Regions from separate parts of the Homo sapiens genome. Here all the other regions are linked to region 1. The links come from fine-mapping of genetic effects on plasma protein levels. A gene starts in region 1. Each other region holds a variant in brackets. All regions are shown on one strand. Distances are from middle to middle.

Region 1 (4,072 bases):
AGACGTAGTTTCATCATGTTGGCCAGGCTGGTCTCAAATACCTGACCTCAAATGATCCGCCCGCCTCGGCCTCCCAAAGTGCTGGGATTATGGGCGTGAGCCACCGCGCCCAACCAGACAGCCTGTTAATTAACCTGCAGATTCTGCTTCAGTAGGTCTTTAGACTTACACGGAAGCTCCCAGGTGATGCCCACGCTGCTGGTCTGAGGTCCACCCCTGAGTAGAGAGGCTCTAAAGCTTTTTTCATTCCTGTCTTCTATTCTGCCACCAGCCTTCCTTCCCTTTGTGTCTTCCTTTCCTGCATTTAGTAACCCTGAGCTCCTGATGTGTGCAGGAGATTACACCACGACGCCAGAATGGGCTAGGATTTTCTAGATGGTACAGCGAGCCTTGAGGTGAAGCAGGCTGGCAGTATCCTTAGAAGTTGTGTCTCTTGGCTGGGCGCGGTGGCTCACGCCTGTAATCCCAGCACTTTGGGAGGCCGAGGCGGGTGGATCATGAGGTCAGGAGATCGAGACCATCCTGGCTAACATGGTGAAACCCCGTCTCTACTAAAAATACAAAAAATTAGCTGGGCGTGGTGGCGGGCGCCTGTAGTCCCAGCTACTCAGGAGGCTGAGGCAGGAGAATGGCGTGAACCCGGGAGGTGGAGCTTGCAGTGAGCCGAGATTGCGCCACTGCACTCCAGCCTGGGCGACAGAGAGACTCCGTCTCAGAAAAAAAAAAAAAAAAAAAAAAAAAAAAGTTGTATCTCTTTAGGTAAATTACTGCTCCTGGAAGGGTTATCCCATGATCAAGAGTTGGGGGTCTGGCCAGGCATAATTTCTCACACCTGTAATCCCAGCACTTTGGGAAGCCAAGGTGGGAGGATCACTTGGGCCCAAGAGTTAGAGACCAGCCTGGGCAACATAGTAAAAACTCATCTCTACTACAAATAACAATAATAAAATAAATAAATAAATAAATAAAGAGTTGGGGGTCCTCAGGATCTTAGGCAGGCAGAGGTATTGCCAGCTCTGCAGCTTGCTAAGTTCACTGTGAGGCTGCATAGAGTATAGGCTGGAGGAGCCTGTCTAGTGGAGATGGGGAGGACCTCCCACCCCACTGTTGTTTTACCATCCCCAGTTCTGCCTCCGGACAGTTTCTGAGAGCAAGTTTGTCTTGCCGAGTGGCCCAGAGGAGGCCCGGGGTCCCCTCCTGAGGACCCTCTCCCACCTCCCTTGGCTCCTCCCACTTGGCTGGCTGTTTCTTGCCTCATCTCCCTTGCAGCCCCCAGAGCAGCCCAGTTCAGTCCCCAGCGTTAGTAAAGAATGTTTTAAGAAAGATCAAGTTTAAGACACAAGAAAAGCCTGCATGGGTTTTTATAAATTTTGAAGCAAAATTCTTTCTTGGCCAGGCACAGTGGTTCACACCAGTAATCCCACCACTTTGGGAGGCTGAGGTGGGCAGATTGCATGAGCCCAGGAGTTCAAGACCAGCCTGGGCAGCATAGCAAAATCCTATCTCTAAAACAAATACAAAAATTAGTCGGGCATGGTGGCACTCGCCTGTGGTCCCAGCTACTTGGGAAGCTGAGATGGGAGGATCACCTGAGCCCAGGAAGGTCCAGGCTGCAGTGAATCATGACTGCACCACTGCACTCCAGCCTGGGCAACAGAGTGAGATCCTGTCTCAAAAACAAACAAATAAACCAACAAACACAGCCCCAAACCCAAGATTTTTCCTTAACACATGATACAGTGAAAAGGGCCTAGGGAAATGGTTCCCAAACTTGAGTATTAAAATGACCTGGGCAGCTTTTTAAATTGATGCTCTGTTCTCACTGCAGCCCAATTAAATCAGAGTGTCGGGGTGGAAGATGGGTGTCAGTGTTCTTCAAAATTCCCCCGGAGTTTCCACTGCACAGCCAAGTTTGGGAGCCCCTGGCAGGGAGAGAGGAATGCCTGGGTTCCTATCTCAGCTCATTCACAGGCTTGCGGTGAGACCCCAGTGGCAGCTTCTTCCCCTCCCCAGGCTCAGTTCCCTCATCTCAAAAACGATGCAGTCATGTAGCTCTGAAATTATTTTTAATTTCAAATTACTCACATAGGACCCAAGAATTAGAGACACTTATGAAATCTAATTGAACCCCAGAATTACTGGAAGGAAAAACAACTTAGATCTTAGAGAACAGAACTAGTGCTAAACTCATTACAATTTTCGCAAGCTCTCAGACTCTCATACTCTGCACATTGAATTGCAGGTAATAACATAAGGTTCCTAACTAGGTCACATTTACCATTCAATGCTATGTGGTAGAAGCACACGCATATTAAAATAGGAATACATATTCTCTTTTGCTTTTCTAGCCTTTATATATAAAACCAGTTACCTACCATTGTGATAAGCAGGACTCCTTATAGACAGGTACATCCAGGCAAAGCTGCATCAAACTTTTATACTGGAGAGGGCAACCACGCATTCGACATCATTGGGAATGATAACAAGGTGAGAACACATTGAGTGTTTACAGAGGGTTGACTATCAAAAGGAAAGTATGGTTTCAGATGATTTATGAGTTATTAATCAATCACATCTCCACCCAAGTTATGTGTTTACCTTGTCCCCACCCCGATCTGCATTTGCTGCTGACCTAAAAGAGCAGAGGAGGAGAGAACTTCTCTTTGCTGAGCCTTCGCCCTATGCTGGTGGATTGCTAGCACGTGATGTGTCCTTATTCGATTTTATACACAAAGAAACAGCCTCAGCGATGCCAGTCACAACAGCCAGGTGGTAAAGGTGGGTTTCCTGAAGGCATAAGAATAGCCCACAGGTCAGCCCACCAGGCCCACCGGGCCTGGGTCTGTGGCCCAGATGACCCTGCCCTTAGGGTCTGACATGAGAACAGAAATGGGTCAAGCCATCCTGCAGGGCACAGGAGAGCAAGAACTACATACAGCTCGGGGTTCCCTGACAAGCTGAATTGCTGGACCTTTCTAGAGCCCTTCTTGAATCTGTAGTCTACTCCCTGCTGCATCAAGCAAGCCTTGTTTCTCTTTGTTCCACAGTGGTCTCCTCCCAAACAACCGCACCTGCCCTCATCATGGCTAGGATGGCCTTTGGGGAATGGCAACAAGCAGAACCTCCTAGGGTGCTGGAGGGACTTACTACTTTATCTGTTTGCTCTGCCACCACAACAAAACACTGCAACTGGGTGGCTTTGACTAAAGAAATTTATTTGCTCACAGTTCTGGAGACTAGAAATGTGAGGTCAAGCCATTGGGGAAGGCTTGTTTTCCTCTGAGCCCTCTCTCTTTGGTTTGCAGATGGCCATGCTCTTGCTGCCTCTTACATGGCATGCATCCCTGGCATCTCTCTCTGTGTCCAAATTTCCTCTTCTGATAAGGACACTAGCTGTATTGGATTAGGGTCCACTCTAACTATCTCATTTTACCTAAGCCACCTCTTTAAAGGCCGTGTCTCCATTACAGTCACATTCTGGGATATTGGGGGTTAGGGCTTAAACCAATGAATTTTTAGGGGATGCAATTGAGCTCATAAGACAATTTTATCCCAAAAAGTCCCCTCACTCCTCGCCACAGCTTGCTACAGTTCCTAAAATTTAACCTGAGATCCCTCTGCCCACAGATGAGAGTTCATGCTCCTAACCAGGGGATCCTTGAAGCTCATCTGAGCTGGCCACAGTGGCCCTTTCCAGCACCATCCTCTACCCTCCCTAAAATCAGCCTCACCACCCCTAACACAGCTTGAGGTCACTCTCCTGCTCCTTAGAAGAGCTGTAGTGCTGTCTGGCTGCCTCCTCACTCACCAACGGTGCCACACACTTCTGCCTTTACCTGCATAAGTTAAGTGTTCATCGACTCTAAGTTCCAGGAAATCGGGGCACATTCATCATGCACTGTAGCCCCTTGGATTCTTTTAAAACTCCAAGTTTGAAGAACTTCCCACAGTGTGAAGTGGGAAGTTCTGCCTTACATTGAGAGGAACTAGGATTTGCTGCCCTCACCTGCTTACCTCCAGGGTACAGGCACAAACCTCGGCTCCACAAACACTCTCCTCTCAAAAAGTCCTC
Region 2 (3,964 bases), 150 kb after region 1:
CGCTCTAACCACTGCCTCTAGAAGTAGAATAAGTGTCCTCTTGCAGAATACTTCTACTTCCTTCTCCTCAAACCCCTCCAGCTTGGAATCTCATACCATTTGATTATATTGATCACTCTCCCAATGTTTAGTCACTTTCCCTCATTCTTTGAAGTCTTTACAACCTGACTTACTGCCATTATTTTGATATCTCATTTAAATTACTTATCTTCTTTGACATTTGACCTCGTCATTTCCAACGTACTTGCTATCTTCAGTATCTAGCTATTCAATCTCATGATCTCAGCTCAAACCATGTTATTACTCCTAATTGCAAATTTTTACAATCTAACTTTTAAGTTTCCTGCCTTCTGAACATTAACTTCTATCTTTCTAGTTCATTCCATTTACTACAACTTCAAAAATACTGTGACTCATCCTGGATCTACAATCTCATACAATATACAATACAGTCCTTATACAATTCTCAATCCAATAATCTCCACACATCCTTTACTTCTCAGCAAACCTACCTTCAAAACATTTAAATAATTTTTACTACTGCTGTTATCCACCCAGGCCTAGCCAACATCATGTCTCATCTGAATTTTTATCCCCCTTCCTGCTTCTGCATTAGCCCTCACCTTCAGTCTATTCTCAATACCCAAGCAAGAATATAACATAATATCATAGAGATCATGCCACTCTGCTCACTCACTTTTAAGGACTTCTAATTCCACTCTCAGTCATTATTGTACAGATTATACAGCTCTACTCATGCTCCCCACCAGGCACACCTCTTTGATCACAGCCCTGTTGCTCTTCCCCTTGTGCCTCTGTTCCATCTTTACTGCACCCAACACTTCCTGGTGCTCTTTGGGCAGCCTGGGAATTGTCTCTGTGTTAGTCCATTCGAGCAGCTATAACAAAATACCATAGACTAAGTAGCTTATAAATGACAGAAATTTATTTTTCACAATTCTGGAAGCTAAGTCCCAGATCAAAGTGCTGACATATTCCGTATATGATGAGGCCCTATTTCCTAGTTCATAGACCCATCTTATTCTTCATATGGTGGAGTCATCATATGGTGGAAGGGACAAACCAATCCCCTCAGGCATCCTTTATAAAGGCACCAATCTCCTTCATGAAGGCTCTGTATTCATGACATAATCACCTTCCAAAGACCTTAACTTTTAATAGTATCATACTGGAATTAGACTTCAACGTATGAATTTGGGGGGGTTGTCAACATTCAGACCATAGCACTGTCACGTTAGATGCTTTGTACATGGTTTCTCTGACTGAAAACACCTGTCTTCAAATTCCCCCCTGGATTGTTTCCTTACCTCCTGGATTAGTTCCTTCTCATGCCGCTAATAAAAACATATCCTAGACTGGGTAATTTATAAAGGAAAGAAGTTTAATTGAGTCACAGTTCTGCACAGCTGGTGAGACCTCAGGAAACTTACAATCATGGTGGAAGGGGAAGCAATACATCCTTCTTCACATGGTGGCAGCAAGGAGAAGTGCCAAGCAAAATGGGGGAAAAAACCCTGATAAAACCCTCAGAGAACATGAGAACTCACTCATATCACAAGAACAGCAGCATGGGGGTAACTGCCCCCATGATTCAATTGTCTCCCACCAGGTCCCTCCCATGACACATTAAGGGATTACGGGAACTACAATTCAAGCTTTAGATTTAGTGGGGGACCCAGTCAAACCACATCACCTTCTTCAAGTCTTTCACTCAAATGCTACTGTCTCTGTCATGCCTTCCTTATTTCCCTACTTAAAATTGTATCTCCTTCTCGTGTTCTTTATTTGCTTTGTCTGCTTTACTTTCCTCCATAGCACTTAGCAACACTTAACATATTATATAGTTTAATTTTTTATGTTATTATATATCTCCTTCCAAGAGAATGTAAGCTCCAAAAAGGCATATATTTTTTTCTTTCCTTTTTTTCACAGGAAAAAAGGAAAGGCCCTGTGTTATATCCACAGGGCCTACAACAGAATGTGGTACAAGGTAGGAGCTTAATGTGAATGAATGAATGTTAGTCTTATTACCTTTTAAGTTTACCTAATTTTCTAATTTTCTACATTTTCTACCTTCCTCCGTCCTTTCCACCTTCCTACCTCCTTTGGGATGTGCATACAGAAAGCAGCAACATTAAGGTAAGAAAGTTTAACCTTTGGATTAATATTAAAACCTTGAGACAGTTTTGCTTTTCTGTTGCCTTTAGCAAAACCACATTCCTGCTGCTGTCAGTTATGACGCACTGAGAAATCTTCAGAGACCTAAACTTTTTCCACAAGATGACTGGAGAAAAATAAA[T/A]CACCAAATATCATAAAGATACTTGCATGTTTTGTAAGTGATTAATGACTGCTTTCTCATAACAGTAAAAACTATTTTGTTTTGTATGAGAGGATTTTTCACTCTAACTTTTAAAAAAATCATTACATACAAATATATCACATCAAACCCAAAAGCCATTGCTAGCACACTGGTTCCTGTCTTAATATTAAGTATGAGACAAAAGGCCTTTATCTTCCAGAAAGTTGTTTATAACATGCCAAATATGTGAACACCCAATAGTCAAAGGACATTATCTCTGTGATGCAATTTTGAAAGTTGGTAAAATAATTTTTTATCAATTTCATCCTACAAGCACATAATTTAAACCATTCTTTTAAAGTGGATTTTAGAAGATTGGAAGTTTTAGAAGTCAGTCCCTCCACAAAAACTGCCATTAAACTGCAAAAAATAAGAATTAACCTTTTTGGAACTCTGGATCCTAATCAGATAAATAACAACCATTAGTAGAGTGCTTGATGCTATTGGTCTTTAGTAAGAAAGTGGCTGCATGCACACGCCAGATAACATCACTCATTCTTATTCACAAGAGTCAAAAAGTGAAAACAAACCTGTATGTGTGGATAAACAAAATGTGGCATGTACATACAAGGGAATATTATTTAGCCATAAAAAGGGAATGATGTTCTGATACATGTTTACAACATGGATAAACCTTGAAAACATTATGCTAAATAAAATAAGCCAGACACAAAAGGACAAACAGTATATGATTCTACTTATATGAAAGATCATGAATAGTCAAATTCATGTAGAGGGAATGCAGATTGCATGTTTCCAGAGCATGGAGGCTGGGGCAAGGGGAATGAAGAATTAGTGCTTAATGGTACAGAACTTCTGTTTGATGTGATACAAAAGTTATGAAAACAGTGTTAATTATACAACATTGTGAATGTATTCAATATCACTGAGTTTTAGAATTGAAAATGATTAAATGGTACCTTTTATGTTATGTATATTTACCACTGGGTAATAAAATTGTATTAATGTAGGTGAGGCAATTTTAACAGTTGTACCACTCTGGAGGAGGATATGATAATGAAGGAGGCCATGCATGTGGAGGCAGGATATATTACATATATAATATATATTTATAATATATATAATTATATATATATTATATATACACATTATGTCAGGGTGTGTGTATATATATATTTTATATATATAAAAAAACATACACCCTGCCTCCACATACATGTAAGACATATATAGTAATATATGGTATATTATCATATATAATATATATAACTATATATATATATATATGGTAAATCTCTATCTTCCTCTTAATTTTTCTGTGAAACTGAAACTGCCCTAAAAAATTCAAGTCCTACAAAAATGAAAGTGAATTAAAGTACTTTTTCTGGAACAAATAAACTTAGCATAAATAGTTAAAATATTAAGAGTTGTAATTAAGGGAAATTTCCGCTCAATGTGACTTCAACAGTTTAAAAAACGTATTACTACAATAAGACCACGGAGAGAGGAATTGGGAGACCCAGAATTGATTGGGTCAGAAATTGAAAATGATATTATCAGTGACCCAGGTTTGAATGTCTCTCTTCACAGCATTGACTTCACTAATGGATGTGACCTGGTTGG
Region 3 (4,072 bases), 150 kb after region 1:
GGGGATGGTATTCAATAGTACCACATCCAAGCAAGTCTTGTGTGGTTAAAACAAATCAATACAGTAACATGAAATTTTACACAGAAACCTATCTAATTATAAATTGTATGCTTACCATAATCAACACTGTTATACATTGTTTTAAAAATACTTAATAATGTTTTTTGTTTAACCAAATAATAGAGGCATTAACTAGTTTCCCAGTGCTGCCAAAAGAAATTGCTACAAAATTTGTGGCTTAAAATAGTAAAACAAACAAACAAACAAACAAAAAATTCTCTCTCAATTATAGGAGGCCAGAAGACCAAAATCAAGGTGGAGGCAGAGGCATACTTCCTCTGATGCCTCTAGGGAAGAATCCTTTCTTGCCTCTTCTAGCTTCTGGTGGCTCCTGGCACTCCTTGGCTTGTGACAGCATAACTCTAACCTTTGTCTCTATCTTCACATGACCTTGCTTGTGTTTCTGTGTCCCAACTACCCATGACTCACTCTAAATTCAGATGATCTCACCCTGAGTTCTTTAACTTTATTATATCTGTAAAGCTCCTATTTCAAAATAAGGTGACATTTACAGGTACTGGAATGGGAGAGGGTCTAGGACACAGACACTCCCTTATGAGGATACTACATGACCCATTACAAGGCACAAAGTAATCACCATAGGCAAACCGCTAGTGAGAGCTCACTCCAGTTCGGAATATATTCATGTTTCTATGTAAGAGAAAAATTCATCCTTGCTTCAGTTCATCTTGGCATCAGTACAAGGGTGGGATTCAGAGACATATAAGTGTGGAATACCAGATCCCACCACACTTAAAAAGCTGGCATACTAAGTTCATAAACAATGTAGAGTGTGAAGTTGAGTTGAAAATGCTTATGCCATACAGTTTATGTATCTTATAATAGCCTTAATCACACTTCCAGTAATGTTCTCCACCACTGGATGCTAAAAAAATAAAGTTAGTTAAAGAATTAGATAGTATAAAAAATATATATACCTCTTTGAGTGGAAAAATGCTGTCAGCACATTTTGTTATTTTATTCCATTGTATAAAGTCTCACTAGTGCCCTCTTCATAAATGTATTGAAGGTTTGGCTAAATTGTATCAAATTTGTGATTAAATACAAATGTGAATACTATAAAATATTACAAAGGACAATCTGTATACTATGCTATGCCAGTTTTACAATTTTACAATGACTTACAGATGCCATAAATATTTACTTTAAGGGAGTAAAATAAGTTATAAAATCATATTTAAGGACACCTAAATCCTTGAATAAGTTTAAAATGGTATTATTATTTACATATGAAGTCAGCTGACTATTGAAAGCTTATTTTTCAATAACAGAAATATATGCATTATCTAAAACACATATTCCAATATTTTCAAGAAACAAAATACTGAATTAAATCATCTGTATTTAAATGTTTATCTATTTTCGTTATAAATGTCCATGAAAATGCTTAAAATTGGTTTATTTGATCTAAAAAGTTAATATGCAATTTTTATTTTT[AAT/A]ATATCATTTTTCCCATTTATTCTTTTCTAAATAACACGTTCATCCAAAGTAGATGACTGAAGAAACAAAATGCTGTTTTCTTTATGAACTTGTAATACATTTCAAAAATAATTAAGATATTGTTCAAGGTGTTGAAGTGTACAATATAACAAATTGCATTTGCAGTTGAATAGTAGCAGAGTAGAAGCTGAAAAAATAAATCATGTATCAAAGTAGCTTAAAACAGATGATAGCAGAGCAAAGAGTTTCCTGCCAACGCCCTCTAAACATCGGTTCTTTTAGGCTTTTGTGCTGGTATTAGGTTTCAGTTATAGACAAGACATATATATCTGACCTTTTCCTTTCCTTTTCTACACCTTGGAGTCAAAGTCTCCTATAAAAGGACATTTGCAGCAAGTATTTTCAGCTGGAGTAGGAGGAAAGGGCAGGAGTAGGAGAGCGTTATGATCACCTCTTGCCAAAGCAGTTTCACTTGATTTGCAACTGGTGTTTGGTAAAGAATTTTGCTATGCAAAAATAGTGTCTTAATTGGATTATTTTAAGACAAAGTATGCATTTTTCATGTCGTACTAGTATTTTATTAATAAGGCTAGGGAAACCTACTAAATCCCTATACTAAAGTGAATTTGATTCTCTCCATAGAAACTTAAATCCTCAGGGTGATACAACTCAGTCCTTCTACTGCAGCAGCTCTTTTATAAATGCCTCCCAAAGCTCCAAGAAGGAACAAAGAATGTGACCAGTAAGCTCACACCATGAGTCTATATTGCAGAATATAGACTTTGTTCAACAAAACTGCAGATGCTCTGTTGAATCCACTGGAGATTGTCCTGATACTAAGGACAAGTATGTAAGTTAATGATTTTATTAATTTTAACATTTTTAAATGTTTTCCTTTGGGGAATTCTAATTTATATATCAATATTCAGGTAATATTTGCTGAAAACACAAACTCTGAGAATCAAAATGATCTGCATTCACATTCTCATTTTCTATTATAACATAGAGACAACTACTTTATTATCTTTTTAGAAACTTTCGCAACTACTTTAGTTTCTTCCTAATTTTATAAATTAATCTATCTCAAAAAACTTTGCTCAAAACAGTTAGTAATAGCTATCAACTTCAGAAAAAGTGAAACTTTAGGCCGGGCGGGGTGGCTCACGCCTGTAATCCCAGCACTTTGGGAGGCTGAGGCAGGCGGATCACGAGGTCAGGTGATCGAGACCATCCTGGCTAACATGGTGAAACCCCATCTCTACTAAAAATACAAAAAATAACCCTGTCTCTACAAAAAATTAGCCTGGCGTGGTGGCGGGCGCCTGTAGTCCCAGCTACTCGGGAGGCTGAGGCAGCAGAATGGCGTGAACCCGGGAGGCGGAGCTTGCAGTGAGCTGAGATCGCGCCACTGCAGTCCGGCCTGGGCGAAAGAGCGAGACTCCGTCTCAAAAAAAAAAAAAGAAAAAGAAAAGAAAAAGAAAAAGAAAAAAAGAAAGAAAAAAAACTTTAAAGATAACTTTTAGAAGGAAAATGAAATACAGAAATAATACATCTCATTTACACTTAATTAAAAATAATATGAATTGTCACTATTTCCTATGAAAACATCTCATGCCAAGTTCTTTTATTAAGCTTGGATTTTAAATGTTATATTTGAGTTGAAACTGGTAGAATCTTAGTAAAACTATAACAATAAGAAATTTTTATATTATATATGTAATATACAATAATCACATTTAATTCCATTTGTTAGTCTATTCTGATTCTTTAGCAGGTTGATTCATAATTTACCAACTTGGATCAGAAATATTTTCTATTCTTAGCTTTTGCTGTCAGCAGAGATAATAATAATATAGAGCCTGAACAACAAAGGATTGTGTATTGTTTCAATTTAATTAAAGTTGATTCGCTGCTTTAAGAGAGACTCACATTTTATATTTTATATTTTTTAATTAAAAAGAGAATGTAGATATTTGCTTTTCCAAATTTCCCATAAGATAAGAAAAACATATTTTTTCTTAATTACACCCTTGCTAAGTCACGCTAGCTGCCTGACCTTGGACAAAATTCTTAACCTCTTTGTGTCTCATTTTCAGTAACTGTGAATTAAAGATAATAACTGTAGTATATTTCTCAAGGGATTATTGTGGGAATTAAATAAAATAATCCTCTAAAATGCTTAGTACAGATTCTGGAACATAATAAGCAGAAAAAATTAATAACAATTATTATTTTTATTTACTGTATTATGTGACATACTTTTTCTTTATGACCTTCAGGAGAATTTCTACTCATCTTAAAAATGTATATAGATATTGATCTGCAGAGAAATATATCTGTTATTTCAAGGTCTGTGGATTACATAATGGTCAACTCTGATTGATTTACTGATTAAACAAAATTTTAAAACAAAAATAAAAATATTGCAGCTATGTTGGTTTTAACCATTCTAAACTCTGATGAAATTTGCTTTCTGTTTGGTTTGTGACTAGGAAGATAAACATTATTTATTAGGAATAAAAATTTCTGGTGTCTAAAAAATTTCAAGAGG
Region 4 (4,072 bases), 130 kb after region 1:
TGATATGTAAATGCACAAATATACATGCACACAACATATAACAAAGCAGTTTTTATGATGTACCTCTTGCATTACAATACTCTTATGTAGCTATACAACTCCTACAAGACATAAAGTAAACACAAAAGCTATTTTCTTCACTTGCATGTATGTAGATGTATCCTAGAGAAATGCTATTGTTCCTCAGAAATGGTATTTGTAAATGAATTTTTTTTAATTAGACAAACCCAAAGTACTATACTATGGAGTAAGTTTGTCTTATTTTGTTTTTAATCAGTGAATATAGATGACTAGTTCATTCACTTAGTCTTTCAGAAGAGTTTTAATATCAAAATTATCATATGGTCTGACTTTTTTTAAAGCCCAGTTCTTACAAAACAATAAAATCAGACCTGGTGAGGTTCTGACAACTACGAGAGAAACTTAGTACCAAATACATATGCTATTTCTCCATTTGCACAAGACAGCTAATTTGTAGAAAACAGAAGACTAAAAGTTGGTAAATCAAATGTGTTTTATAATTACATCTGTGAGAGAAGAATCCTCTTATGACTTCTGGAAATATCAAAATCTGAAATGACTAAATAACTGACATGCCAAGGAATTTGTATTCTCTTGTTCTTTTACACATTAGGGGAGAAAATAGTAAAAACTAGCATAATTGTGTGGCAAAATATCCATGAAATAATATTTTGAAAGTTAAAATATGGATTTAAATTAAGACAAATGGATGTGTTTTTTAGATGTGTATGCCTAAAAGATGGATACTGTGGATATCTGATGGCTTTCTTGATTAAGCCACAACCGGTGGACCTCACAAATGTCAAATATGTTATTCCAAAATGTCAGTTGTTTAGACTCATTTCTCAGCTTGTTATTGATGAGTTTCCTTTCACATTTGGAGGAATCCTGTTGGGGAAACTGAAGAACAGATGTTAAGTGTGAAGTGTCTCCCTCCTTAGTTCATATTCATATCACATTGTTTGAGCTGCCACATGTAAACAATATAGACACTAAGCCAACTGGTCCTCTGCCTACTGCTGATGTGGCAGAAAATATCTAGGAGGTAGCCAGAGGGGCATATGTATACCTGTTAAGTGGCCTGGTTCTCCAATAGTCGTGCAAGTATTGCTAAATTTGTTTCGCTCCTGGGAATTCAAGCTTCTATTTCAGATTCCTAATCCACAGCATTAATTATCTTTTTTGAATACCCGAAGCAATTTATGTTGCTTAACATATAATAAAGTTAAGTCCATTATTATTCCTGTCTTATAATTGAGGAGACTAGAGTCTAGATTATTTAAGCAACCAAAATCACACAGTCAGTCAATGACAGAGCCCATGACTAAAATTCTGTCTGTCCCCAGATTTGTGCTCTTCAGATAATGACATTTCTGCACAGTTATTAATCTGAGTAAATAGAGTCCATAGTGAATTATTAGCTGATTTCAGGAGATTCCATGCAAATAAAAGTCTGTCATATCATGCTCTGCCAGTCTACATTAATACAAATCACAACAACAAGGCAGTTTATTTAAAAATATTAAAAGTAATAGAAGATTGAATGGAAGGATGAATGGATGGATTGATTAAGAGATAGATAATAAATAAATTGATGAGAGAGAGAAACACACAGAGAGAAAGATAAAATTAACCACACTAATAAAAGTATGATTTGGTATATAACAGAAAAAGTTCTTTAGTTTGTTTGTTTGTGTGTGTAGGTATTCTGTCATAAAAACACAATTATCTAAAACATAAAGTCTCAATCTTTTGCTTAAGAAATATTTTTAATTTAGGCTGGTTACAACTGTGAATTAAATTTTATTTTTATTTTTTATTTTATTTTATTTTG[AT/A]TTTTTTTTTTTTTTAAGATGGAGCATCGCTCTATTGCCCAGGCTGGAGTGTGGTGGCGCGATCTTGGCTCACTGAAACCTCTGCCTCCTGGGTTCAAGCGACTCTCCTATCTCAGCCTCCCAAGTAGTAATTTTTGTATTTTTAGTAGAGATGGGGTTTCACAATGTTGCCCAGGCTGGTCTTGAACTCCTAACCTCAGGTGATCCGCCTGCCTCAGCCTCCCAAAGTGCTTGGATTATAGGTGTGAGGCACCATGCCCTGCCCAATTGTGAATTAAATTTATATCTAGAAAAGGTGAGAAATATTATTAACGAAGACATTTCTTTCTATGATACTTAAGTTATACATGTGTAGAAGGTGCAGGCTTATTGTATAGGTATATGTGTACCATGGTGGTTTGCTGCCCATCAACCTGTCATCTACATTAGGTATTTCTCTTAATGCTATCCCTACCCTTGCCCCCCACCCCCCGACAGGCCCCAGTGTGTGATGTTTCCCTCCATGTGCCCATATGTTGTCATTGTTCAACTCCCACTTCTGAGTGAGAACATGTGGTGTTTGGTTTTCTGTTCCTGTGTTAGTTTGCTGAGAATGATGGTTTCCAGCTTCATCCATGTCCCTGCAAATAACGAACTCATTCTTTTATATGGCTGCATAGCATTCCATGGTGTATATGTGCCACATTTTCTTTACCCAGTCTATCATTGATGGACATTTGGGTTGGTCCCAAGTCTTTGCTGTTGTGAATAGTGCTGCAATAAACATATGTGTGCATATGTCTTTATAGTAGATGATTTATAATCCTTTGGGTATATACCCAGTAATTGGATTACTGGGGCAAATGGTATTTCTAGTTCTAGATCCTTGAGGAATCACCACACTGTCTTCCACAATGGCTGAACTAATTTACACTCCCACCAACAGTGTAAAAGTGTTCCTATTTCTCCACATCCTCTCCAGCATCTGTTGTTTCCTGACTTTTTAATGATCACCATTCTAACTGGCCCGAGATGGTATCTCATTGTGGTTTTGATTTGCATTTCTGTAATGACCATTTCTGTAATGATGAGCTTTTTTCATATGTTTTTGGCCACATAAATGCCTTCTTTTGAAAAGTGTCTATTCATTTCCTTCGCCCACTTTTTGATGGGGTTGTTTTTCTCTTGTGAATTTGTTTAAATTCTTTGTAAACTCTGGATATTAGTCCTTTGTCAGATGGATAGATCGCAAAATTTTTCTCCCATTCTGTAGGTTGCCTGTTCACTCTGATGGTAGTTTCTTTTGCTGTGCAGAAGCCTTTTAGTTTAATTAGATCCCATTTGTCATGGGAAGACATTTCTAACCAGCAACAGGTCCAGTATCAGGGCCTTTATGTCTTTGTCCACAAAGTGAGTATGTTCTGCACAGGGCAGCAGTGTTTAAGGATATATTCTCTTCATGGAGTAACACCCAACTCAAACTTTAATGGTAACACTTTAAATCTTTCCAAGCTCTAAAAGCAATTTCTTCTGCTTAATTGCTTTTTGGGGACTGTAATACATGTGGGTATTCTTACTCTAAATATAATTCTCTGCATTTATTTTCAACATTTCTTTTATGGCCACTTAAGTGACTTTTCTCTGGTTATTTATGCAATATAGGTGACAATCCTATTTGGTTTTCTATTTGAACATTCTGTAAAAGCTGAATAACAACTCCAAAATACAACACAAACATGCAGATACATATACAAACACTTACTGTATTTTATTCAATTAACAAGTGTGTTCACTTTAATTCACACACAACTATACCTATAGGCATGCCCACACATACAAACACACATACACTGTTTCTCATTCCTATTTCCTTTGTCTGTACTTGGTTTAGTTATGGCACTTTTGTTTTGCCTCTAACATTTTTATTTTAAAAAGAAAATTAAAATAGGTTATTGGGATCAAAGATATAAGCTTTTTGTTACTTTGAATGATTTTTGTAATTCAGAATATGCACTTGTTATTTCAGTTCTTATTTTTATAATTATTGGAAGAGTTTGTCTAATTACCCTATAAATCCCTAGAGAAAGGTAGCCACCATATACTTTATTTCTTGGTTATATGTATAAAAATCAGTAGGCAATGTAAAAATGTTTTTGTGTGAATTTATGTGAGTTATAATTCTAATTCTATGTCAATATTCACCTCAGATTACCACATGAAAGCTTAGTCACCAAGTA
Region 5 (4,072 bases), 200 kb after region 1:
CAATAGCTGAGTCTTAGCCAATCACAGCAGCCATGCTTCAACCACTCATAAGGAGCCAATTGTTCAAACCATGTTCAAATAAGGCAAATGCCAAGGTGTAACTAATCCAGATGTTTGTACTTCACTTTCATTTTCTGTATGTCATTTCTTTTTCTGACCATACATCATATCTGACCATATGGTAGCCACAGACCCTCTCTGAATCTGTTCTGATTCTGATGTTGTCTGAGACACATTTTTTTCTTGATCAGTTAAACTCTGTTACATTTAATTTGTTTAAATTTTTCTTTTGACAGATTTGGTGTCAGAAGATAAGTAAAACTGCAAAAGGCTGGAGAGGCTTCAAGATGGCTGACTAGAGGCATCAAGAACTCACCTCCTCCACAAAGAAAAATAAAAATAGCAAGTAATCACACTTCAAGAAGAACATCTAAGAGTGAACGCTGGAATTCAATAGATAAATGATGGGAAATAACTGAGGCATGAAAATGGAAGAAAGTGAGGCAGCAAGCTTGGCTGGGATTGGCTGGGAACCCAGAGTGGCTCCCTAGTGCAAGAAAAAGGTTAGTGAGAGATCCACAGCGGTTGACATTCTGACCATGGATTTTATAACCATAGCCAAAGGAAAACCCCTCAACCCTCATAGGCCCTGAGACTAGCGTAGGAAGGTGCCTAGAGACCATGTAACAGCACTGCTTCAGAGGGAGCTCATGTGGGTCCCAGTCCCCAGGTCTTAGGCAGCTGTAGCTCTCTGCCATTTGGAGAGCCCAGCCACCACCAGACTGCATCCTGCACTGGAAACCAACAGCCCCTGCATTTCCACATCTCTAGAGTCCCACTGACATCTCCCTGTGTTCACCTGTAGGGCTTCAGTAGTGCAATGCCAGTTGGACCCAGCAGAGCCTCCCTAGCACTCTAGCACACACAGTGTCCTGCATCTTGGGGAATGGACAGTGCAGCACAATAGGGAGGCTGCCTCCCCAGTGTGCTGAGAGGCTGCCCTCAGAGAAAAAGGAGCCAAAGTGTGGGTTTCTTAGAGCTTGAAAACTGTCTACCTGGGGCAGTTATCATGGACAGCAACCCTGTTCCCACCCCAGCAGTAAGGCTGCCATGCACATGCCTTGAGGGCAGGGTCTGCTACTGCTCACTGCATCTGTTGTTGCTGTCACTGGGGCCAAAGCACATGCCACTTGACAGTGACTTTGCCCTTTTTGGGCAGCAGAGCCACGCATACTTGCATCCCCTTTACTACTGGTTTTCCCTGTTGCTGCTGCTACCACTGCTGCTGCCACCCCTCAACAGCTAGGGGCTGAATCTCACACTTCCCAGATCCTGAGAACTCCTGCCTATGGCTGGAGCCACTGTAAGCAACCTGCCTATGGCCCAGCCATTTGCACATACCCTGAGGACAGTTTCCCCTGGCCCACTGCTGCCACTGCCACAGCCACTTGAGCACTCTGCCAGTGGGCCTGGGGACCCCTCCATTTTGCCAACCACAGCCATCACCTGAGTGTTCCATTGAGGGGCCTGAGGATACACCCACCCACCTTGACACTGCTTACCTCAGTGCCCAAGCACACTGCCTGGGGGCCTAGGGATTACCCCCACTCTGTTCACCATTGCTGGCCTCTATGTACTCCTCCTAGGGGCCTGATGATGGACCCACTCAGTCTACCACTACC[A/G]CCACAGCCAGCATCCATTTGCATGTACCACTTTGGGTTTAGGGAACTGGCCTACCCAGCCATCACTAACACTGATGTGTGTTGCTTCAGAGCCTTAGAGTTGCTGTGTTGTTGCTATTGTCAACACTCACTCCACACATGCTGCCAAGGGAAGGACCTGCCCGCTGGCCAGGCCTACCACTATGACTGCCAGCACCCAAGCCAGCCACATGGAGGCCTAAGAACTGGCCCATTTGTACCTGCTGACACTAGTGCCTGTGTACACTGCCTGGGGTCACAAGGAGAGGTACATTTACCCTGCCACTGCCACCATCAGGGTTTGAGGGCACACCCACCTAACATCCCCAACCGCAGCAAAACATCATCATAGCCTCCACTAACAACCACAGCCTAAGCCACTAGGGAAATCACACACCACTGATACTGCTTAGAGGTGAAGAAATCATAGAGACACTACATTACTTCATACACTTAGAAGCAAAGCTAAAGTGTCCTACCCAATAAAAACCATGGAAATATCTTCAGGAAAAAGCCAATCCAAAATGTATGAAGAAGCAACTGTTACAAAAGATGTGCAGATATCAATGTAAAACGCAAGAAACATGACTAAACAAGGAAATATGACACTTCCAAAAGATTACAATAATTCTTTAGCAACAGATTTCACTGGAAAAAAAATTTATGAAACGTGGGAAAAATAATTTTTAAAAATGATATTATAAAAGCTCAGTAAGACACAAGAGGACATAAACAATACAAAAAGTTAGAAATCAACTGAGGATATGAATGAAAAATTCACCAGAGAAACAGATATAATAGAAAAAAGAATCAAACAGAAATTCTGAAAGTGAAGAATTCAATGAACAAAATAAAAATTTATTCAAGAGCTTCCACAGTAGAGTGGAGCAAAAAGAAGAAAGCATCTCAGAACTTGAAGGCAGACCTTTTGAAATAACCCAGCCAGAGCCCCCGTCCCCATGCCCTACTCACACAAAAGAATAAAAAACAATGAACTAAACTTACAGAACATACGGGACACTATAAAGCAACCAAAAACAGAAATTTGGGGTGTTCCAAATGGTGAAGAGACCCAAGGTATAGAAAACCTGATTAACAAAATAATAGCTGAAAACTTCCCAAATTTAGTAAGAGATTTAACATTCAGATACAAGAAGTTTAGAAATTCACAGGTAATTAAAAACTCAAAAGGTCTTTTCCACAGCACATTATAGTAAACTGTCAAAAGTCAAACAGAGAATTCTAAAAAGAGTAAGAGAAAGGAAAAAGCTCTGGTCACATATATAGGAAGCCCGATCAGAAGAACAGTTAATTTCTCAGCAGTAACCTTATAGGCCAGGAGAGAATGGGATAATACAGGAGAGAATGGGATAATATATTTCCCCCCTAAAAAGGGGGCCAAAAAACCTGTCAGCCAATAATACTATACCTAACAACATTATTCTTTATCTTTAAAAAATGTGAAATAAAGTTTTTTCCACACAAGCAAAACCTGAGGGAATTCATCATCACTAGACCAGCCTTAGAAGAAATACTTAAGGGAGTCCTATGCCTGGAAGTGAATGAATGATAGCTACCGTCATGAAAACATACAAAAGTCTAAAACTTGCTGGTAGAGTAAACACAGAAATAAGAAAAAGAACTCAAATGTTACCACTATAGAAAACCAGCACACCATAATGATAAACTACAAGAGAGAAAGAAAGGAAAAATATACAAAACAATCAGAAAACATTTAACAAAATGACAGAAATAAGTCTTCATATATCAATAATAACCTTGAATGTAAATGGATTAAATTTTCCACTTAAAAGATAAAATCTGGCTGAATGAATTTTGAAAATGCCCCAACTATATGCTGCATACAAGAAACTCACTTCACATGTAAACACATGTAGACTAAAAGGAAAGGAATGAAAAAAGATATATCACACAAATAGAAACCAAAAGTGAGTAGAAGTAGCTATACTTATATCAGATAAAACAGACTTTAAGACAAAAGCATTAAAAAGTGACAAAGAAGGTCATATTATATAATGATAAAGGGATCAATTCAGCAAGAAAATACAACAATTCTAAAGATATATGCACCCAACACCAGAGCCCCCATATACATAATGCAAATATTATTAAATCTAATAGACTTCAATACAGTAATTTTTGGGGACTTCAACAGTTCACTCTCACCATTAGACATGTCATCCACAAAGAAAACCAACAAGGAAAAAATAAATTTAACCTACAGCTTAGAACAAATGGACCTAGGAGACATCTACAGAATATTTCATCCAACAACTGCAGAATACATGTTCTTCTAATCAGCAAATAGAACATTATCCAAGATAGACCATATGTCAGGTCACAAAACAAAT
Region 6 (4,072 bases), 140 kb after region 1:
AGAAAATAATTATATTCACAATACTATACAAATAAACCCTTGGAAATAAATTTAGCAAAATGTGTGTAAGGACTGTATGCTGAAAACTAATAATCTAAGCAAATGGAAAATCATTCCATGCTCATGGATTGGGAGACCTACTATTGCTTTTCTAGTAATTCTCCCATCATAGATCTATAGATTTAATACTATTGTTACCATACATTAGCCATATTATATGAACATAAATATTTCATTTGTGAGCCTCATATCTAATTATTTGTTATTTACATATAAAATAATTATTTTAATATGAGCTCTTTGAAAAGCACTTTAAAAATGGTTCCCTGAGACCTTGGCTTTCAAGTTCTACTTAAACTATTCAGTATGAACTAGAAAATTTAGTAAACAAAGTGTCATCTTCTGCCTCATTATCTTTTTATTTGGAAAACTATGTTAGACTCCAAGGTATTCTCTCTTTACTTCAATGTAACAGAAGTAACCAGTTTAATTGTTCAGAACCTGACATTTATTTAATCATGTCTTCTTAGTGTTCAGGTTTATTGTCTTCAATGACTGGATGCCAGTCTGCTTCCTTTTTGACTTTCCTAGGCTCGGATTCATCAGATTCTCTACTTGTGCCATTTGGAATGGAAAGACCCTCCCACAGGGTAGAGGTTATTCATTCTCTCTCTCTCTCTCTCTCTCTCCACCACAATTTTTGCCAAGAGCAAGTCAGGTTTTTGGTCAAGCTAAATTTTTACTGCATGCTTTCCTTCAACTAAGTGTGAAAGAAATCTATTAAATAATATTTAATTTGGTCTCAAATGTGAACCATACTCTCCAACCTAGTTTTTCTACCAAATAACCATGAACTGAAATTTACTTCATAGTTTTGACCTTCATAAATTGTTTGTTTCCCCATTTATCTTCAATTCTTATATGTTTTGAAATTATTGATATCAACTCTGGAGAAAAGAGTAAGTCTTACAACCGGCATAACAACAGGTACAATTAAAGAAGTATGTTCCTTAACATGAGAAGAATGTTAACCCATTTCAATCAAAAGTATTTCATTTTTCCCATGAGTAACACTATGCTGTGCATTGTGGAGTTTACAGAGGAGGTGAGATATGGTCCTGACTTCGTGGTATACAATTTCATTTGATAGGGCAAGGCATATGTGGTATAATAAAGATATAGATGTTACTGACGTACATGAGAGCCTTGTGGGCTGAGTTCCCTTATAGAAGTGGAGTCTGTGCAATCTTGAAAATGGGTAGCATCTGGATAAGAAAAGAGTCAATCAAGTAAGAGAAATGCCCCAAAATTGCTTCTATGATAGTAGAACAGCTTCTTTCAGAAAAAGCTACATAGACATTTAAATTTAAAATTATAGCATCTTACAAACAAATATATAAATACCATTTACTTTTATGTCTAATACATTTAGGGAAAGTATCTAAGTCAATGTTAAAAATTCTATTTCAAATCCTCGCATGCATCTCCTTTCACTAATTAAATAATAGTGAACTGTGTTTTGAAATCATCAGACACTTCAAAATTAGTTTTCTTTTCAAATAATGCAACGTAGTAAAATGGTGGACTTGCAAAGTTCTTATTTTACTGTGATTCTTCTATGAAAATAATGTAGGACTATTTAAAATTTTTCCTTAAACTTTCCACAAGTGTAAAGTAGGTAAAACACCACAAGCAATATTTGCTGAATTATTACAATATATTATATGTCTTTTACTTAATATGAGTTATACACTGAGAACTTTTTTTTTCACAATAATTCTCCGAGATGAAGATAAAGTGGATGAAAAGTTGAAGTAAAGATGTATTCACCCTACAAGACTTAATAGTGAGTCTATGCTTAACTCAAGATTGCACTGGCCAAGGGATTAAAGAGGCAGAGGAGAAACTGCTTCCAGCGTTGTTTCCCAATAAATCAATAAAACTTGTCAGGTGTTTTCATCCAAG[G/T]AGAGAGTAACACTAACCTCTATCTTCATGTATACATTTTTTCCAGGCTTTTGGAGCTTGTCAATGATTCCTAAACTTGGCTTTATATTAGATTCACCTGGAGACCCATTACAATCCCAATGTCACCAGGCATGGTGGCTCAAGCCTGTAATTCAAGCTACACGAGAGGCTGAGGCAGAAGCATCCCTCAAGCCCAGGAGTTTGCGGCTGCAGTGAGCTATGATCATGCCACTGTACACTAGCCCAGGTGACAAAGTGAGACCCTGTCCCCTTCTCCCCAAAAATCCTGATGTCCAGGTTATCAAATTAGAATTTTTGAAGGTAGGATTGAGGCAGTGCTACTAAAAGCAATGACAAAAAGAAGCAAGCAAGCAAACCACTTGATGATAATATGGAACAAAGGTTGAGAACCACCAGATGGAAAAAGAAAACAAATTCATTAATACTGATCGTCTATTACCTTTAAATAACCTAGATCTCAAGAGATCCCAATATACAAAAGCTTTGGCTAGGACCTGAGAATCTATTATAATTAGCATTTTCATTAATCTTAATATCTCACTCATATCATGCACAAAATTCAATGTAAGATGGATCACAGACCCAAATATAAATGCTAAAGCTTCTAGAAGAATACTTTGAGGAACATCATAATGATCTTGAGTGAGATAAATAATGATTTTTTTTCGAGAGCACAAAATGTATTAAACATAAAAATAAAAATTGTTAATGTTTTTACTATATTAAACTTATATTCATTTATTCAAAAAAACCTCATTACATATATAAGGAACTCCTAACAACAGAAAAAAATAACTTAAAAAGGGAGGCAAAATGATTGAATAAATTTTCTTCAAAGACATACAAATAGCCAAAAGGTATATGAAAAGATGTTCAACGTCACTAATGATCAAAGAGATACAAATAAAAACCAAAATATGATATCACTTACCACTTATTAGGAGGGGTAATTTGGAATTTCCATTCCAAAAGAATGGAAATCAGGATGTGGTAGAGTTACCTGCATACCCATGTTCTTTGCAGCATTACTCACAAAACAACAAAATCTGAAAACTTAAATGTCCATCAGCACATAAATGAATAAAGAAAATGTGGCGTATAAATACAATGGAATATTTTCAGCTTTAAGAAGCAAGGACATTCTGCCATCTGCAAGAACATGAATGAACCTGGAGGATATCATGCTAAGCGTGATAAGCCAGTCACAGAAGGATAAATTCTGCATGATTTCACACATATGAGCTTTCTAAAATAGTCAAACTCATAGAAATAGAGAATAGAATGGTTAGGGGAAGGAGGAAGAAGGGTTGCTGTTCAACAGGTATAAAGTTTCAGTTGTGTAAGTTGCGTAAGTTCTAAAGATTTTCTGTGCAACATCACGCCTATACTTAACGGTGCTATAGTGTACATTTAAAACCTTACTAAGAGGATAGATCACAAGTTATGTTTTTACCTCAATGAAAAATGAATAGAAATGTCACAGTGAGATAACACATTTGAAATACACAGACCTGACAAAATATTTCTATGGAAAGTAAATAAATCCTACAAATTGTTATGCAGAAGATACATCACTCAATTAGAAGTGGGCAAAAGACTTGAACGGTCAGTTCATAAAAGAAGACAGCCAAATGGGGAATCAGGAAAAGAAAATGTGCTGAACATAGTTGGTCATCAGAAAAAATGAAAATAAAAACCTCAATGAGATGTCATTACATATCCAAGAGAACTGGTAAAATTAAAATGGCTAAATACCTGGAGACCGATATGGGAGGATAGCTTGAGCCCAGGAGTTCAAGGCTGCAGTGAGCTATGATTGTGCCACTCCACTCCAGCCTGTGTGATGGAGCAAGACCCCATCTCTTAAGAAAAAAAATTGGGGACTGAATATAGCAAGTGTTGAAAAGGCTATGAAACAAAGAAAATCTCATACATTCGTGGTGGGAGAGTAAATTTACAGCTATATTTTAAAGAAGTTTGGCAATTTCTTATAAAGTTAAACTGCACAAATACCCAATGACATCGTGATTCAATTTATAGGTATATACCAAAAATAAATGAGGGTGTGTATTCACACAATAGAGAC
Region 7 (4,072 bases), 140 kb after region 1:
TTAAAACTGTTCACAATAATTGACATTTTACAAGTCATATCATGTGATACTTTTTGCCAAACCTGGTCTCTGGCTTGATCAGTTTTATTTTACATTTGAAATTTGTACTTAGACTTGTGGGACTACTTTCTTCCATGAAAGATCTAATACCCTACAACCAAACACTTCATTATTTGGAATTAAAAAGCGAAATTCTTTGATTATATCTAAGCTAATTTAAGTATTTTAAGTATATAATGTTTAACTGTTAAGTAGTTTACTTCAATTATTAAAATGACTGAGTCAGAGTAACCGATTATACTTCCTAGGCACACTAGGCCAGATGTCAAGAATCAAGGACTTCATTTTCAGAGCTGGCACTCATTAGCTCTGGGTTTGGAGAATTCACTTATTCTCTTCATTCTTTCTGAATAGTTTAGCATTGTTTTCTAGATGTGATTGAGTTTAAATGCACTATTTGGAGGCTTATAGGTTCCATTCTTTTAGGGAAAATAATTTTGAAAAAGAAAGAATAAAAAACTCTAGGTCAAAAGGGATCTATGGCTGTCTCACAGCAAGAGTGAAACACTGAGATGCCTACATGGTATATAAATATTAAAATAAAGAAGGCAAGCTGACTATGAAAAACAACAGCTGAATTATGGCAACAAATGAAAAATGTCAGTAGTATCTCTACTGGGGACACTATGGAATGGTGGGGACTGAGGATAATTAGAGAAGACAACCTGCCTACACATGGCAGCATCTACTAAGACTTATGACTCTGTTTATGAAGAATATGAGTAAATGTCCTGATATTTAAACACATACCAAAAATTAAGATGTTCATGTATTTTGCTAATTTGATTATTTTAAAGTAATAATATTTTTTATTCAAACAAATATATTGTCAGTTTAAAGGCCACTGTTTCTTACGTAATAAAATTTGCTTTTTGATTTGATGCTTGAATTTTTTCTATGACATCACAAGAAAGTTATTGGTTATACATGAACAAATGCATGAATGGAATTATTATTACTTTCATTGACAAATGCTTTTATATATGTAAAATTTTCATCTTAGAAAGTTATTTTATGTGTTTTTAGAGAACTATCCTCTCTTCCATGATGCATCTTTGTTAGTTCTATTTCTTTAAGTAACATTGAAGTTATTTATTTTTCTGTTTTTGTATATCACATTCTTATTCCACTAAAATACCTATATTTTCTTCAGTTATGTATGATTGGATTTTTTTAACCATCCAGATACATGTCTTGTGACATAATAGAATCTTTTTTATTCTTAGAATGAAAGAGCTAAACCATAGTCAGAAAACTTATGAATTTACTATATCACAGCTACTATGGTGTGGTATGTAAATTATGTTTATGAAAATTTATGATTATTCAGATTAAGTCCTGCATATGTAATGTTAAGATTTTTTTACTTTATTTTTCTGAGAACTTGATTTACTAAAAGGTAAATAAATCACACTAGGATATAAATATATCATTATTATTTTAAAAGGTATGCCCCAGTCCTCTTCTTACTGTTGGATAAGCTCGTTCTGAAACCACAGTTCCAGACTCTTCTCCTGAGTAAATAAACATATTTTAAAGCAGTGGTAAATATCTGTTTTGTCTGCAACTCCATCTCCAACAAGTAATTTGTTCAACAATTGTCAGTATGAAGTGGATGTCCTTTACATCAGCTCCCTAGATTTTTTCAAGTCCATTGGTGCTTCACAACATTTTTTCAGAGGTTATATTCTAGTCACTTTCTTTATTGTCCATTCAAAACACTTGCTGAGACCTAGGGTGTCAGATTCTATTTTGCCTGTTATTTGACATTCCCTTCTCTTCCCAGGCCATTTAGCTACATATTTCCTATTGGACTATCTGCTTTGGCATTTAGTAAATAAATACCGTAAGTCACTGAGGGTATGGGAAGAAATATTGAGTCATAGATACCATTTTCTCTTAGGGAATTTTCCTCTGAAGGCTTGCAAGTGTGGTATAGTTCAGTGTAGTGCTACCAGCTTCTGTTCTAAGGACACAGCTAATTGGGTTCCTAATCCAAGATAATTTAAACAGATTATTTAACCTTTTTATGTTAGTGTTTCTATTTTGTATAGTGGTTATAATAAAACCATTTACTACTTAAGATTAAGATCCTCATAGATCTGAAGAAATATTGTACTAGAATGCTTAGTGAAAAATGTCTGACACATAATAAATATTCCATACATTTTGGCCTTTGCTCTCATTGTTATTTTTACCATCAGCTCTCTCA[A/C]CCTTGAAACCTGGCTCAGCCCCTGTGGAACTGTAGTATATCACCCCTGTCCCAAAACGAAGACCTAGAATATTTACCCTTACATGGTTCCTATATCCGAGGTCCCAGAAAGGTAGAAGGGGGAAATGTCACAATAATATTCAAAATATCTGAAAGCAAACTGTTATTGTTTTAGTGTGAGAATAGAGCTTCATAGAATTTGACATTGTATTTCCCTAAAATATTAAACTTGTATATTCTCAACAGTTATATTATAAATATTTATTCAGGTATACTCAAAATTTATCCATATTAATGATAATTATTTAAATGCTCTTTAGCTGTTCATCACCATATTAATACTAGGAATAATGACAGCTAATTTTAATTGAGTACTTCCAAACTGTGGCCCAGTTACAGTAAAATAAACACTATTAGATACACTCCATCAATTATTACAGCAAGTCTATGAAACATACTGTATTACTAAGCCAGTATTAGAAATGAAAAACTCATGGGAAGGATATATATAAAACTTGCTCAAAGTTACCCAGCTAATAAATGGCTAGGACACAATTAAACACCTATGTAGTTTTCTTTCCTGAGCTGAAATCCTAAATCCTTGGCTGTATGGCCCCTCATTCAAAAGCCCTAAATTGGCTAAAATTTATATAACAGAAAATTCACAGAATCATTTCCTTCTACTTTTCCACTACCAGGGCTGTTAACAGTCCCAAGTAAAAGGGCAAAATTTTTTCTACTTGAGATAAGAAAAATACAGAGTGTGACAGGTGTTCCACCAATATAAAAACACTTTACCAGAAAAACTGAGAAGGGGGCTGTTAACCTTCGGGGAAATGTGGGTCTTCAGTGGATTCTTGCTAGAAACATAAAAACGTAGAGAGAAGATTTTCATTTAAAAGCCTCCTCCCTTCAGCAAAGTATATTCTGATTCCATTATTGTGTTAGGCTCCTATATAGTTATAAGTAACCCCATGTGGTTTTAGAATTCTTAAATATTCACACACATAGTCATCTGAAGAATGAATAAATCCATGAATGACTAAACCAAGTTTATTCCTATATCATTTTCAATATCCTTAAATTATGCTTACATCCTTAAATCGGTTGCCTCATTCTCAAAGCACATAGTCTGTAACTCGTAAACACCTGTCGGCCGGGCACGGTGGCTCACGCCTGTAATCCCAGCACTTTGGGAGGCCAAGGCGGGCATATCACCTGAGTTCGGGAGTTTGCGAACAGCCTGACCACCATGGAGAAACCCCGTCTCTACTAAAAATACAAAAAATGAGCCGGGCGCGGTGGTGCATGCCTGTAATCCCAGCTACTTGGGAGGCTGAGGTAGGAGAATCACTTGAACTCAGGAGGTGGAGGCTGCGGTGAGCCAAGATCATGCCAGCCTGGGCAACAATAGCAAAACTGTGTATCACAAAACAACAACAACAACAACAACAACAACAACAACCAAAAAAATATATATATATAAAATTCATTTAGTACGGAAGAGTGTGAGGAAACAGAAAGTTAAAAAAAAAAATTGAAAGACCAGCAATAATCTCACTTTTTCAAGAATTTGTTAGCTCTTTCTGAGCTCCACTTAACAGTTACTTTCCCATTCTTCCCTGCACACCGTCAACACATAAGGACTCAAATTAAGATGATGTATATGTTTACACTCCAAAATTTTTAAAGAAAAAGGAGAGAGAGAGAAAAAAGTAAAAGAAAAGAAACCCAAAAGGGAAAATATAGCTAAGGTGAACTGGTGAGTTTCTACTCAGAATCCTTATTATTGAGCATGAT

Which allele goes with the higher level. Positions count from the first base shown, and alleles are read on the strand shown. Strength reflects both the effect of a copy and how common the allele is.
With allele T in place of A in region 2, the plasma level of the protein whose gene starts at base 2,410 in region 1 is higher (strong association).
For the plasma level of the protein whose gene starts at base 2,410 in region 1, A is the low allele of the variant in region 3 and AAT is the other (strong association).
For the plasma level of the protein whose gene starts at base 2,410 in region 1, A is the low allele of the variant in region 4 and AT is the other (moderate association).
In carriers of allele A in region 5, the plasma level of the protein whose gene starts at base 2,410 in region 1 tends to be higher than with G alone (strong association).
In carriers of allele G in region 6, the plasma level of the protein whose gene starts at base 2,410 in region 1 tends to be higher than with T alone (moderate association).
With allele A in place of C in region 7, the plasma level of the protein whose gene starts at base 2,410 in region 1 is higher (strong association).

Evidence for each region. PIP is the posterior inclusion probability: the model's chance that the variant is causal. Protein levels are from antibody-based Olink assays in UK Biobank. Linkage for the fine-mapping came from a reference panel and not from the study's own genotypes, which makes the PIPs less certain.
Region 2: its variant is fine-mapped to the plasma level of the MSMB protein (UK Biobank, PIP above 0.99).
Region 3: its variant is fine-mapped to the plasma level of the MSMB protein (UK Biobank, PIP above 0.99).
Region 4: its variant is fine-mapped to the plasma level of the MSMB protein (UK Biobank, PIP above 0.99).
Region 5: its variant is fine-mapped to the plasma level of the MSMB protein (UK Biobank, PIP above 0.99).
Region 6: its variant is fine-mapped to the plasma level of the MSMB protein (UK Biobank, PIP above 0.99).
Region 7: its variant is fine-mapped to the plasma level of the MSMB protein (UK Biobank, PIP 0.97).

What each region holds. Positions count from the first base shown.
Region 1 is chr10:46,043,860-46,047,931 of GRCh38, forward strand. MSMB (microseminoprotein beta) reads right to left here and starts at 2,410. Exons shown (of 4, transcript NM_002443.4): 1 at 2,376-2,410. The coding sequence starts at 2,378. RefSeq lists an enhancer at 359-860.
Region 2 is chr10:46,193,272-46,197,235 of GRCh38, forward strand. It overlaps LOC124902418 (a long non-coding RNA gene), which reads right to left. Exons shown (of 2, transcript XR_007062137.1): 2 at 1-3,964. Among named protein-coding and RNA genes, the nearest start is that of ANTXRL, 92 kb to the right of the region's middle. The variant T/A (reference allele first, on the strand shown) is at 2,321.
Region 3 is chr10:46,198,279-46,202,350 of GRCh38, forward strand. LOC124902418 (a long non-coding RNA gene) reads right to left here. Exons shown (of 2, transcript XR_007062137.1): 2 at 1-4,072. Among named protein-coding and RNA genes, the nearest start is that of ANTXRL, 87 kb to the right of the region's middle. The variant AAT/A (reference allele first, on the strand shown) is at 1,519.
Region 4 is chr10:46,176,003-46,180,074 of GRCh38, forward strand. LOC124902418 (a long non-coding RNA gene) reads right to left here. Exons shown (of 2, transcript XR_007062137.1): 2 at 1-4,072. Among named protein-coding and RNA genes, the nearest start is that of ANTXRL, 110 kb to the right of the region's middle. The variant AT/A (reference allele first, on the strand shown) is at 1,856.
Region 5 is chr10:46,239,376-46,243,447 of GRCh38, forward strand. It overlaps the pseudogene ANTXRLP1. Among named protein-coding and RNA genes, the nearest start is that of ANTXRL, 46 kb to the right of the region's middle. RefSeq lists an enhancer at 133-232. The variant A/G (reference allele first, on the strand shown) is at 1,683.
Region 6 is chr10:46,188,047-46,192,118 of GRCh38, forward strand. It overlaps LOC124902418 (a long non-coding RNA gene), which reads right to left. Exons shown (of 2, transcript XR_007062137.1): 2 at 1-4,072. Among named protein-coding and RNA genes, the nearest start is that of ANTXRL, 97 kb to the right of the region's middle. The variant G/T (reference allele first, on the strand shown) is at 1,966.
Region 7 is chr10:46,180,985-46,185,056 of GRCh38, forward strand. It overlaps LOC124902418 (a long non-coding RNA gene), which reads right to left. Exons shown (of 2, transcript XR_007062137.1): 2 at 1-4,072. Among named protein-coding and RNA genes, the nearest start is that of ANTXRL, 100 kb to the right of the region's middle. The variant A/C (reference allele first, on the strand shown) is at 2,273.